Homo sapiens: one gene and its partner. The protein of the gene in region 1 interacts with the protein of each later gene in a pairwise test. Each region holds a gene or a part of one and is shown in the gene's direction. Other genes may lie near its edges.

The links.
Region 2: the proteins of FHIT (region 1) and RAB40B interact in a two-hybrid assay, tested with the Homo sapiens proteins (one large-scale study listed by BioGRID and IntAct).

Annotation. Positions count from the first base shown.
Region 1 is NC_000003.12:60,009,250-60,013,072, reverse strand, and holds part of FHIT (bis(5'-adenosyl)-triphosphatase), read left to right. Parts: intron 1-1,672; coding exon 1,673-1,702; intron 1,703-3,823. UniProt on the Homo sapiens protein: Possesses dinucleoside triphosphate hydrolase activity. Cleaves P(1)-P(3)-bis(5'-adenosyl) triphosphate (Ap3A) to yield AMP and ADP. Can also hydrolyze P(1)-P(4)-bis(5'-adenosyl) tetraphosphate (Ap4A), but has extremely low activity with ATP.
Region 2 is NC_000017.11:82,688,594-82,692,416, reverse strand, and holds part of RAB40B (ras-related protein Rab-40B), read left to right. Parts: intron 1-3,823. UniProt on the Homo sapiens protein: RAB40B small GTPase acts as substrate-recognition components of the ECS(RAB40B) E3 ubiquitin ligase complex which mediates the ubiquitination of target proteins.

The DNA of each region.
Region 1 (3,823 bases):
AGAGTAGCTAAACTTCCCCCAAATGCTTTGTGTGTATGTGTTGTATGTCAAACCATTTGAGTCCCCTTCAGGCAGGTAGTTCAGTTCAGAGTGGGTTTATCAAGCTTATGTTGCAAACCGTGTTTCTGGAGAGACTAAATGAAGGCAGTGAATGAAAACCTCTGTTAATGTTTAGTGAGATACAAGAATAAAAATCACATTTATAGGAAATGGCCATTGCTGGTTATGGAACATTTTTCACTAGAAAGTTAATTCCATAAATGTAAGAGCTGACTTGTGTTAGCACCTAGAGTACTTTCGTATATGCAATGTGGTCAAACTATTTTTTACTGTAACCTACAGTAAGATACATATTTATTTCAAAATCATGCCTGTCTCCCCTGACACACATATATGAAATATATGCATATGCCTATATTGATAAAGGAAACCAGAGTTTCACAAAACAATGTTTACTCATTCTGTGCAGTCTAATAGTTTTTATTCTATTAAGATCTGATTTCTGGCTGGGTGTGGTGGCTCACACCTGTAATCCCAGCACTTTGGGAGGCTAAGACCGGCAGCTCTCTTGAGCTCAGGAGTTTGAGATCAGCTTGGGCAACATGGCAAAACCCTGTCCCTAAGAAAAATACAAAAATTAGCCAGGCATGATGGTGCATGCCTGTAGTCCCAGTTACTCAGGAGGCTGAGGCAGGAGAATCACTTGAGTCCAGGAGGTCAAGGGTGCAGTGAGCCGCCATCATGCCACCATACTCTGGCCTGGACAACTGAGTAAGACCCTTTCTCAAAAAAAAAAAAAAAAAAAACAACAAAAAAAACACCTGATTTACATTGTTTGTAATGCTGATTGCAACCCATTAAGTTGACTTCATGACCCACTAATGGATTGTGACTCTAAGTTTGAAAATCCCTGATATACACAGTTATGCTTAATCCTTACGGCGGGAGTTCTCACCCCGTTAGTCAGGCTCATAGAGGTAGACAAACCTGGCTAAAGTTGCAGAGGTGAAATTCTATTTTGGAATTTCTGATTGTGGAGCCATTGCTTTGTTTGGCCATCTCAACCAGCTGAGTATCTGCTTTTGCTTTATATTATGGCTGGTGACTTGGTGAGTTTGCCCATTTCCAACTAAGCTTCAGAAACAGAGAAAGGGAACCAGTTTGGGAAAAGGGTCCAGCTACAATGAACACTACCATTTGTCTCCCACAAGGTCAGAATAGCCAGAGGACTCTTCCCATATGAAATACCCCATATTCTTCCTTAATGGCTTATGTTTATAGCAGATTTCCTGAGTAGAAGCTTAAAGTAATCAGACATTAATTAAACCACCTCTAAACATAACCAGAAGGTGTGATACTTCACCTCCCCAAACATTTTCAGCCTTCCTTTAATGCAATTAAAACCATAGCCTAGAGCAAAGAGCATGAAAAGTAGCAAGGAGTTGGCTTGCTGGATAATTTATATCATTTTTATACATAACTTCGCACTTACTCTCAGGCGGAAATGGAGAACTGTCTAATCCCGCACATTTGAAGCCAATGGTCCCCATGAGAATACTATAAATTAACACACAATGAAATTGCATCTAAATTATTAATGGGTGATATTTCTGAATAAGCAGGAGATACCATCTATCTATTCTCACCTCTGTTGGTTTTTTCCTACTTCTAGGATGGCCCCGAAGCCGGACAGACTGTGAAGGTGAGTGCTTATTATGTGCATACAAATTAATAAGAGGCGATTATGAGAACTAATAAAAAATCACAACGAGTCATATGCAGCACATTGCTGTTTCATTATGTTATCTTCGAGGTCAGAGAGACCCTCAGTGTTAGAGCCGTAAATCCTGACATTATAAACTCTGCCAAACAATATGTTTCCCATTGGTTTACAAGACATTTACTTTTAGTAGTAAAATTATTATTGTGCAAACGCTAAAACAGAAACTAAATCAAGGAGTCCGGAAACATAAGTCAAAGTGGTTCATGTGAGAGAGTGTCTAGGAAATAGCATGTGAGCTTCCTGTGGGTTTGTGCAGCCCCATGTTAAGCCTGGGGTGTCTTTGACACACCTTTGCTTCTTGACATAGTCTGCTTTTGCTTCATTGTTTTTGAGTGAAGCAATAACCGCAGCAGTAGCATCAAGCTGCCTCCCTTCCTTTCTGTTCTCCTGTGCTTCTCTCTGTTCTCCTTCTCGTCACCCCCACACCTACTCTTTTCCTCCCTGTGTACTTAATACCAAAGTTCAAACCTAATGGAGTCAGTGGAGCTCAAAGATGGGTTTTTAAGTGTGCTAGGAGAAGAAAGGAGGATTTATTAGGATAGTCTCTGCTTCTGTAGTAAAAATAAAATAATAAAATCCTGGCTGATTCAGAAGCTGGGTTTCAGCTCTTTTCATACAAATGCTAATTCCTATACGGGTAGATTCTGCACCTAAGTCATAGAAAAGGCTCTATTTTTGGTGCTAGAAGTCAGAAGCAAGTCAGGCTGGGATGTTAATGTTACACTTTGTTGAAATAAAGTTTAATGCTTCGAAGACTAGCTGTGAGTGGATAAGGTGCTGCCCACACAAACAATGCCAAATAAACGTAAGTTCCCTTTTGATCTTACTTTACTTTTGTCTTTAACACAGCTATTCTGGGACTTTTAAAATACAATCTCTGGGAAATACTTCTAAGCAGTGAAAGTTTATGTAGGGACTGCCACCATATGGGCTACCAAATTCCTTATCATAAAAAAGGGCTAGCCTCCTAATTGCTCTACACACAGGGTATGGTGATAGACACAGAGGCTTTCAGCTTTCCTCTGTCCCACTGTCTCACCTCCATGTGAGGCTCTAAATATACGGATGCAAAGAAAGGATTTAATACCTGTGGCTTCTTTTTGAAATCACTTCTTGAAATGCAAAACACAAATGTTTAAACTTGGTTCCAAGATTTTTTAAAACTCAGTATTCAAATGTAAATTCCAACTATACCGGATTAGTTAGATGCACTATGCAATATCTATTTGATGGAATTCCTTCAGCCATTGAAAGCGATACTGTAGAGGCATAGCTAGTGACATGGGGGAATGCACAAACTGTATTAAGTGGGATGCACAGAATGATAATAGGTGCATAGTAAGCATAGCTAAAACTTATATGAATAGATAGGTTATATGATCTCAAAATTTCATTTAGCCATTCTAAAGCGGGATAGAAAATATTTGCTATGCAACAGGCTCTGAATAGAGATAGAAAGTAGATTAGTGGTTGCCAGGGACTGGGACAAGGAAGGAATGGGGAATGATTCCTAATGGATACAGGTTCTTTTAGGGTAATGAAAACGTTGTGGACTTAGTGGTGATGGTTGTGCAACATTGTGAATATAATAAAGCCACTGAATTGTACGTTTTAAAATGGTGAATTTTATCATATTTGAATTATCTCTTGACTAAAAATAATAAACACACACACACAAAACAAATAAGCAGTGAGCCTAGCTGGGCTGATAACTATGGCTACAGATTGTGTAACTCCAATAGTAATTACTTTTTGATGTCCCAATTATCTGGCCAAAATGTGTAATGTTTTTGTTACCTTTGATGGTGATGATGATGGACTAATTCTTAACATATAGTACTTATATATGAATTGTTGAATGTGGTTATTGTTATCATCACCCTGATTATTTAGCTTAAGTTGAACTTTTTAAAACGATTCTGTTTTTTAAATCAGCAGGTTATGCTGTTTTGCACATCTTTCAGTTGTTTCCAACCTGATCACAGAAGTTTCCTGATATGAAATAATGGGGATATCTTGACTCGTTTGTAGAATATGGTG
Region 2 (3,823 bases), on another chromosome or scaffold:
GCTGTGCCCAGGTGTTCCCTTTGCTCCGATACGGTCAGCGAGGCCTGGATTCTCCCTCCTGGGCGTTTGTCTTCCTCTCGGTCTGTAGTTGCAGGGCAGAGTTCTTGGATCTTGGACCCTGTCGGCAACTTGACTCCACAGACTATGTGGACCCCACTGCTCTGCCTGTCACCTCAGCCCACGGACCGTGCGGGCCCCACTGCTCTGCCTGTCACCTCAGCCCACGGACCGTGCGGGCCCCACTGCTCTGCCTGTCACCTCAGCCCACGGACCGTGCGGGCCCCACTGCTCTGCCTGTCACCTCAGCCCACGGACCGTGCGGGCCCCACTGCTCTGCCTGTCACCTCAGCCCACGGACCGTGCGGGCCCCACTGCTCTGCCTGTCACCTCAGCCCACGGACCGTGCGGGCCCCACTGCTCTGCTGGTTACCCAGGGAAGTGTCTTCTGTTCTGCAACACACCTCACACACGCTGGTACCCCTGGTTCCTGGTGGCCTGGACCCCATTTCCGTCTGGCAGCTGGGTCCCCGGTTCACGCTCTTTCCCCTCGGAAGTTCCATTTCTCTCCAGGCAGGGGTAGAAGGAAGGCGTCACCAGGCTGGCCCAGGATATGGTCGGGGCACAGCAGGGCCCTGCCTTTCCGCCACCCCAGCTGGTGCTTCCAACACCAGATTGTGTCCCTTCTCTGAGTGCTGAGTTTTCTGCCTTTTGCCCATTTTTTTGTTGTTGTTTTTTGAGATGGAGTCTCGCTCTGTCGCCCAGGCTGGAGTGCAATGGTGCCACATCGGCTCACTGCAACCTCTGCCTCCTGGGTTCAAGTGATTCTCCTGCCTCAGCCCCCCGAGTAGCTGGGATTACAGGTGTACCATGCCCGGCTAATTTTTGTATTTTTAGTAGAGATGGGGGTTTCACCATGTTGGTCAGGCTGGTCTCGAACTCCTGACCTCAGGCAATCCGCCTGCCTGGGCCTCCCGAGTAGCTGGGATTACAGGCGTGAGCCACCGCGCCCGGCCTTTTGCACATGTTTATTGGTGACAGGGAGGGGGGTGGATTAACTACACCAGATGCCACCACCTCTTGCCTCCCACCCTTTTCCCCAGCATGAGGGCCTCATTGTCTTCTCCAATCCTTTCTCCTGGCTGTTTCTTCAGTGTCCTTTTCCCAGCATAAAAGTCCCATTGTTCTTTCTTTGTTTCATTTTTGCTAAGAGCTAATAATAATAACCCTCACTTACTGAGAGGGGGAATCATCTTGAGAGAGGTTATATTGTGAGGCCCAGAGAGGCTGAGCCACTCCCTCAAGACTACACGGTGCGTGGACACACCGGGGTGCAGGTGCAGGGCCTGGCCCTCCCCTCTGTTTCCAATGTTTAATGTTGGGAGAAGGCTCCACTGAGGGAGCTTTTCTTCCCGGAGACGAGCATCAGAGCCTCCGTTATGGAAAGTGACACAGTTGCTGGGGTTTGCTCCTTCCTCTTTGCCTTGGACAGATGTTCCCCTGGGACATGCGTGCCCACTCCATGCTCCCCCGGGGCAAACGTGCACACTCCGTCTCTCTCCAATTCTGCAGATCTTCCCCTGGACACACGTGCACACTCTCTGTTCCCCAGGAACACACATGCACACTTCATCTCCCTCCAATTCTGCAGATCTTCCCCTGGACACACGTGCACACTCTCTGTTCCCCAGGAACACACATGCACACTCCATCTCCCTCCAATTCTGCAGATCTTCCCCTGCACACACGTGCACACTCTCTGCTCCCCGGGAACACATGTGCACACTCCATGCTCCCTCCAATTCTGCAGATCTTCCCCTGGACACACGTGCACACTCTCTGCTCCCCGGCAACACACGTGCACACTCCATGCTCCCTCCAATTCTGCAGATCTTCTCCTGGACACACGTGCACACTCTCTGCTCCCCGGCAACACACGTGCACACTCCATGCTCCCTCCAATTCTGCAGATCTTCTCCTGGACACACGTGCACACTCTCTGCTCCCTGAGAACACATGTGCACACTCCATGCTCCTTCCAATTCTGCAGATCTCCCCCTGGACACACGTACACACTCTCTGCTCCCAGGAACACACATGCACACTCCGTCTCCCTCCAATTCTGCAGATCTTCCCCTGGACACACAAACACACTCTCTGCTCCCCGAGAACACGTGTGCACACTCCGTGCTCCCTCCAATTCTGCAGATCTTCCCCTGGACACACATGCACACTCCATGCTCCCTCTGATTCTTCAGACAGAGGTGGATTTGCTGATTAATACAGCTACTCTTCTGGTTTCCCTTGGCAACCACCTCGAGATATAAAACACGATTTATAAAGTCATCACTTTCAAGTTTGAACTGAAAGTCAAATCATATTTTATCCTGCTTCTTTATAGTGCAGTCCTTAAGGAGGAGATGATGGTTTTCTACTTCTTTTTTTTTTTTTTTGAGATGAAGTTTTGCTCTGTCACCCAGGCTGGAGTGCAGTGGCACGATCTCGGTTCACTGCAACCTCCGCCTCCTGGGTCCAAGCAATTCTCTGCCTCAGCCTCCTGAGTAGCTCGGATTACAGGTGCCCACCATCACGTCCAGCTAATTTTTTGTAGTTTTAGTGGAGACGGGGTTTCACCATCTTGGCCAGGCTGATCTTGAACTCCTGACCTCGTGATCCACCCGCCTTGGCCTCCGAAAGTGCTGGGATTACAGGTGTGAGCCACGTGCCCGGCCAGTTTTCTACTTCTTTACCTCCTGCGGTACCACTTGTGAGAAAATTAATTTTTAAAATACATTAAATGTCTCTATGCATTTGAAAATAACACCATTGCATTGTATCAAGTTTTGCCATTAGAAGCCCTCAATTCGGCCCCACCTCGCCTGTGTCCTGCAGGGTCCTCTCCCCGCCCTGATGACCATCCTTTAGCTTGACCTGTTACTTCTGTAACCCCAGCCCCAGGTGAACCTGATTTCCAGTGACAGGCTGGGAGAGGCTCAAAGCAAGCCAGCCAGGTTTCTCCAGGCAGAGAGAGGGTCAGCTCTGGGGGCTGGAGGCCCACCCATCGCCCCTGAGTCCCCTGTCACCAGCCTGTCCACCAGCCTGGCACCAGGCACCACCGTGGTGCAGAGTGGACGCAGCTGGAGCAGGCAGACCCGCAGTCCTGCCTCATCCTGCCAGCCGCACCTGCTCACTGCTCCTCCTGCCCCAGGAGTGCAGGCTGCTCCGCGCTGGGTGCATTTGGAGTGAAGACAGTGGCAAGGGGCGTCAGAGGCAACAGTGGAATCAGCTGGTATGTGCTGGCTGTGGGTACTGTTCACATTCAGAGATGTTTTTAACCTTTATTTTAAACTTTATTCCCAGGATTCTTCAGCTTAATTAGCTCTATATACACAAAACCTGAAAAGAACAACAGCATCCAAAGGGCTTGGGCATAAAAATATTAGAGATCTAGACTTTATCAAACAAAACAATTTTTAAATTTTTTTTGAGACAGAGTCTTACTCTGTTGCTCAGGCTGGAGTGCAGTGGTGCGATCTTGGCTCACTGCAACCTCTGCTTCCTGGGTTCAAGCAATTTTCCTGCCTCAGTGTCCTGAGTAGCTGGGATTACAGGCATGCACCACCATGCCCGGCTAATTTTTGTATTTTTAGTAAAGACGGGGTTTCACTATGTTGGCCAGGCTGGTCTCGAACTCCTGACCTCAGGTGATCCACCTGCCTCAGCCTCCCAAAGTGCTGGGATTACAGGCGTGAGCCACCACGCCCGGCCCAAACAAAACTATTTGTTTATTTATTTATGTATTTTTGAGACGGAGTCTCGCTTTGTC